Linked DNA regions of Homo sapiens: region 1 is linked to region 2. The links come from fine-mapping of genetic effects on gene expression. A gene starts in region 2. The other region holds a variant in brackets. All regions are shown on one strand. Distances are between the middles of the regions.

What was found. PIP is the estimated chance that this variant, and not a neighbour inherited with it, causes the effect.
Region 1: its variant is fine-mapped to the expression of SIRT2 in whole blood (TOPMed, PIP above 0.99).

The regions. Positions count from the first base shown.
Region 1 is chr19:38,877,010-38,879,909 of GRCh38, forward strand. RINL (Ras and Rab interactor like) reads right to left here and starts at 1,266. Exons shown (of 12, transcript NM_001195833.2): 1 at 1,223-1,266. It overlaps SIRT2 (sirtuin 2), which reads right to left. Exons shown (of 16, transcript NM_012237.4): 14 at 2,623-2,693; 15 at 2,425-2,491; 16 at 1,551-2,301. The coding sequence ends at 2,146. RefSeq lists a silencer at 1,053-1,102 and enhancers at 1,643-1,762, 1,803-1,902. The variant T/G (reference allele first, on the strand shown) is at 1,720.
Region 2 is chr19:38,898,289-38,901,188 of GRCh38, forward strand. It overlaps SIRT2 (sirtuin 2), which reads right to left and starts at 1,330. Exons shown (of 16, transcript NM_012237.4): 1 at 1,218-1,330; 2 at 91-137. The coding sequence starts at 1,233. NFKBIB (NFKB inhibitor beta) reads left to right here and starts at 1,681. Exons shown (of 6, transcript NM_002503.5): 1 at 1,681-1,923. The coding sequence starts at 1,745.

The sequences.
Region 1 (2,900 bases), 21 kb before region 2:
TTCAAGCGATTCTTGTGCCTCAGTCTCCCGAGTAGTTGGGATTACAGGCGTGCACCACCACGCCTGGGTAATTTTTGTATTTTTTAGTAGAGACAAGGTTTTGACGTGTTACCCAGGCTGGTCTCAAACTCCTGACCTCAAGTGATCCCCCCGCCTCGGCCTCCCAAAGTGCTGAGATTACAGGCATGAGCCACCACACCCGGCCGGCAGGGGTTAAATCTTTAGTACCGGATGGTGGGGAATCTGGGGATCCCAGGAGAGAGGCCAGTGTGTCTTGCGGTGTGGGGAGAGGACTCAAAACAATAGCTCTTTACTGAAGTGGTAGGAAATATGTTAAGATTTTTAACAGCCATGGGGGCTGTGTAAATGTGGGCCAGCCCTTGGCAAAACCCAGTCAGCGCCTGGAAAAGTTCTTGGCCCAGAGTAGGCAGTCCCTATATCTGGAAAGGTAATAACATCCCCTCTTCCTCCCTTCCCACACCATGGAGGGGCCACTGAATCTCTTCCCCCAGCATTTTATTATGAAAAATTTCAGACATAGAGAAAAGCTGAAAGAATTGTACAGGAAACATCCCTATGCCCACTACCAAGATTCTACCATGAACATTTTACTCATCTTGCTTTATCACACATCTGTTCCTCTCTCTCTTCATCCACCCATCAGGCCCCAGCTCCTAACCAGGTACAGAGTCCTACGTAGGTTATCACTTAGGGTGGCACTTATCCCAGCAGCAGTCCCAGGAGCAGGAGACCTGGATCGGGGGAGGATCCATCCTCCCTCCCTCCCTCCCTCCCTTCCTTCCTTCCTTCCATCCATCCAGTATTTACTGAATACAGGCTGGAATTAGGTGCCTCTGCCCTGGAGAGAGGGTGATGAACAGGACAGGCTCCTCCCCTCAGGGCCTTCCATTCTTGTTTGGGGCAGGTGTAGCATATGGATAATAGGCAGCTAAACAAATACATTAGGCCATTGACCAGAAGGCCAGGGTGTTATTAGGAAGGAGGGAGGTGGGCAGGGAGGCGCAGGTGCCCTGCCCAGGCAAGAGCAGGAAGGAAGGGAGGGGAGGGGAGGGGAGAGGGAAGCAGATGCCTGCTTGTGTACCGTGGCAGGAGAGGAGGCTGTGGGCAGTGCGTGGCAGGGGTGGGTCAGGGCAGCTGCCTCATACCAAAGGGAGGCAGCAGGGGCTGAAGATGCCAGATGCTCGGTTCCTGGGGGCCCTACCTGTTCTCGGAGGAGAGGCCTGCAGTAGCAGGAAGTGGAGAGAGGAAGCTGAGCAGGCAGGGGGAAGAGGCGGGGCTGGGGTATCTGAAGTCAACTTTCCTCCCTCTTTCTGGGGCCTCAGGCCTTTAGTGACGGGGCTTAGAGGAAGGGACACTGGCAGGCTGGGAGTCCAGGGGTCAGAGCCACGAGGGCCCCCGTGAGGACCCTCTTGTTACCCCTCACTCTGGATCCCGGAGACTTTCTGGTTCCTTAGTGGCCCAAGATCTAACCCCCTCCCTTCAGAGATTTCCCTGGGTGCCCACAGAAAGAAACAGGAGGCCAGACCGGATTGTTAGTTGTTTTTGTTTTTAATTTGTCTCCAATAAGCAATGTCTTCTGCCCATCCAGCATGGGAAGTGGGTCCCACGTGAAGGGGGCCCACCACCCACTTTGGGAGCTGAAGGCAGAGACTCGGGAGCCCTCCCGGCTCAGACTCCCCCTACGCTGGGTGTGGGTTA[T/G]ATTCAGAGGCCCACACCCACACTGGGGTAGGTTAGGTATGGTTTACTTAGCCACAGGCCCCCGGGGGCAGGAGACAGAGTGGGGGCCCGAAGCTCCCTGTCCTGGAAGAGTTAAAAGTTCTGGGGTAGCCCTGGCCCCGTGGGGGCAGTTAGAGATGAGGGAGGTTACTCCTTAGCCCAGGAGTGGTTAGAGACAGTGGGGCTGGTAGAGATGCCTGTTTAAGCCTTGGCCTCTAGGAGGTGTTAGAGATTTGCTGGGGTTGGGGGCCAGGGTTGCTGGGACCCCAGTTTTGGGGAGGGAGCTGTAAGAGATTGGGGGATGTTCTGAGCTCCCCAGACAAGAACTGCTGGTTAAGAGGGGGCCAGGCCCGGTTGGGGCTCAGCTGTCCCTGAGGAGCTCGGCATCCCGCCTGGGAGATGCAGCTGTCACTGGGGTTTCTCCCTCTCTGTTGTCCTGGCCTCGTCCTTGGCAGGTGGCGGGGACTTCTTGGGGGAAGCTGAAGTGCTGGGGTTGGGGACCCCCGCCCCCGACTGGGCATCTATGCTGGCGTGCTCCCTCCGGACAAGGTCCTCCAGCTCCTTCTGCAGGAGCAAAGGTCACAGAAGTCAAAGGTCACTGTGCATCATGGGGTCAGAGGACCCATGGGGTGGGGAGAGGGTCCAGGGATGGGGCTCAGGACAGGCTGGGGTTGCTCAGCTCCTCACCTTCCATCCAAGGAGCTCAGCAAGGGCCAGGCAGCCCTGGTCGCATTCACCCAGCCAGGCCACGTCCCTGCGGTGCAGCAGGAGATCAGAGTTCCCAGGCGGGCTCGCCCCTGCCTGCTCCTCTCATCTGCCTTCGTGCCCCCGCTCCCACCTCACCCTGTCCCTTCCAGGCTGCCCCAACCCCCGGCGGGGCCTCACCTGTAGGCCTTCTTGGAGTCAAAGTCCATGCCTCCTCCGAGGCCCATAATCATCCCCAGGAAAGGGTCCGACTGTCAGGGAGGGGGTGGGTCAGGGGCAGGAGCAGGGAAGGGAGAGCTAAGAGCACAGACCCTGGAGCCAGGTGGCCTGGGTTTGTATCCTAGCTCTGTGACTTTGTTTTTTTTTTGTTGTTGTTTTTTTGGTTTTTTTTGAGACAAAGTTTCACTCTTGTTGCCCAGGCTGGAGTGCAATGATGTGATCTCGGCTCACTGCAACCT
Region 2 (2,900 bases):
GTGACTGTTTCCCCTTTGCCACCTCCCCCCAGTGTGGGATGTGGAACAAGTCCGTCTCTCTCCTCCCCTCCACCCTTTCCCCCATCTCACCTGAGCCTCCTGCACCTTCCCTGCCTGGGTCTCCAGAGGGTGAGAGGCTGGGGGAGGGGAGCAGAGGTGGTTACAGTGGGGAGAACGATTAAGGGGGGAATAAAGGGGTTCAAATGGTCAGTGAGGGGGCAAGAACACCCACCAACCTAGTTACACTGGGATGGGATGGTGGTAAAAATGGAGCAGAGGGAGGGAGGGGACGGAGAAAAGATCTTATCTACATGCAAAGTGATGCCGGGAGAGGTGATTAGTGAGGGGCAGAGAGGCTGGAGAGGAAGATTTAGGGGGACAGGGAGAAAGTAGGGGCTTTTGCCCAGGCTGGTCTTGAACTCCTGGGCTCAAGCGATCCAACCACCTTGGCCTCCCAAAGTACTGGGATTACAAGCATGAGCCATTGTTTCTGGCCCTGACTTACTTTCTTTCTTTTTTACTTTTTAGAGAAAGGGTCTCGCTCATGTCACCCAGGTTGGAGTGCAATAGTGCGATCATAGCTCACTGCAGCCTCAAATTCCTGGGCTCAAGCGATCCTCCTCCTCCTACCTAGGGGATTCAGGGCATGAAGGAACACTCAGGAGGAGTTAGGAAGGACACGACAGTGTGTGAGTGTGTGTGCGGGGAGGGTTAGATTTACAAGGCAGAGGGAAGTTTAGAAAGGAAAAGAGAAGGGAAGAGACGCTTTGGCTGGGAGGCAGGTTTAGGAGGGAGGTGCAGTGGTGCAGTGGAGGCGGTAGGTTTAGGAGAGGCGCGGAACAAGGGGAAGCCATAGGAGGGGTCAGCAGGGGTCCCTCAGCATCCTCTGGTTGCCTCTAACAATCAGGTACCCATAGCAAGCGGGACCGGGGCAACTTATGTTCTTTGCAGCGAGGGACCTTAGCAACCAAGGTGCGAGAAACACGCGATCATTGGCAACTTGGCAAGTGGATGTGGTAAACGAACCCTGAACACACTGCGACCCAGAAACCCACCAGCCTAGCGATACAGATCGCTAAGCAACAGCCCTCAGAATCCCACTCCCCGAAGCGCTCCCTACTTCCCGCCCCACCGCGGCCACCCTTGGGCCCCGGGGCCTGCAGCATTCAGCCAGGCCCCGGCGCGGCCCGACCCTCCTACCCGGATCCCCGACTCACGGTCTGGCTCTGCCATGGGCGCGGTGCTGAAGCCCTTGAGGCTGTCACCGACCGCTCTGTCCCGTCACCAACCACTGTGTCCCGTCACCGACTGCTCTGTCCTGTCACCGACTGCTCTGTCCCGTGACGGCACCAGAAATGGGAGTGGCCGTGATAGGGCACAGAACTACAACTCTCAGCAGACATTGCGGCCGCAGACGCGCTTTCGTACAACACCCAGAGCGCCCCAGTTAGGTAAGAAAGCGCGCGAGGACCGGACTACGAGTCCCAGAAGGCGTGGCGTCAGCAGCCATGTTGGTAAAGGGCGCCCGGAAAATGTGGGAACGGCTAGAGAGTTGTAGTCCTCCCGAATACTCTGATTGGTCAGGATGCAGTACGAGGGCGGGGTGTGAGCGATTCAGCATATTATCATTGGGTGAATCAGGGGGCGTGGTGGGGAATTTCCCGCAGGGCGGAAGCTCCAGAACTCCCGGCAAAGCCCAGCTACAGGCGGGCGACTGCGGGGGGCCCCTGAGGCGGCGGGGGCCATGGCTGGGGTCGCGTGCTTGGGAAAAGCTGCCGACGCAGATGAATGGTGCGACAGCGGCCTGGGCTCCCTGGGTCCGGACGCAGCGGCCCCCGGAGGACCTGGGTTGGGCGCGGAGTTGGGCCCGGGGCTGTCGTGGGCTCCCCTCGTCTTCGGCTACGTCACTGAGGATGGGGACACGTGAGTGAACCTTAGGCTGCCAAACGGAGCCCTAGGACCCGGCGTCACATTCCTCATTAATCTCTGATCCCTGAGGCTTCCTAACCTCATACTCCTAAATCTGACTTCCGATGCTGAACTTCCTGACCTCTAACCCCCGAGTCCTAACTTTTAACAAAACCAATCTTCTATCTAGCTATGATCCTAACCCAATCATTTCTTACCTTCTTTTCTTGAACTATGATTCTCAGCTCCTGGAATCCACATTGTATCCACTGATACCCAAACCTGACTCCAGTCCTGAGACTTCTGTTAGAACTGTGGCTTCTCCTGACTTCTAACCTCCAAATATGATCTTTGATTCTTAGTTCCCGATTTGAGCCCTAGAGTTTGATTTCCGAAATTAATACTTGGTCCCTGACTCTAAGATCCTGTCTTCTGAGCAGTGTTCTTCAAATCTTAAATTCAAAGAGAGAGAATGTAAGCTCTTCTATGTTGAATTCCTAATTAAAGTAAAAAAATAGGAAAATTAAAAAAAAGAATGTTAGCTCCATGAGACCAAGGATTCATCTGTTAAACAAATATTCTTTACACATTACCACGTTCCAGGCTCCGTTTAGGTGCTAGTGATAAAGGCAGTGAAGAAAACAAACAAAAACTTAAGCCCTTGTGGAGCATACATTTTAGTGGAGCTAAATAAACAGATTGATAAGACCACAAGGAAGGAAAGAAATGGAAAGACAGGAAGAAACAAAGAAAGACACGCAGAAAGAAAGAAACATAGAAAGTAAGAAAAGGAAATAAAGTCAGAGGTAGTTAAGTACTTTGGAGAAAAATAAAGCAGGAAAATGAGGCAATAGATAAACAAGATAAGAGCATTTCAAGGAGAAGGAACTGCAGTTGCAAAGGCCCAGATGAGGGATTGTACTGGGTTTTTTGTCTGTTGTGTTTACTGCTGTATGCCCAGTGATGCAAGCAGGGCCTGATCCAGGAGGCAC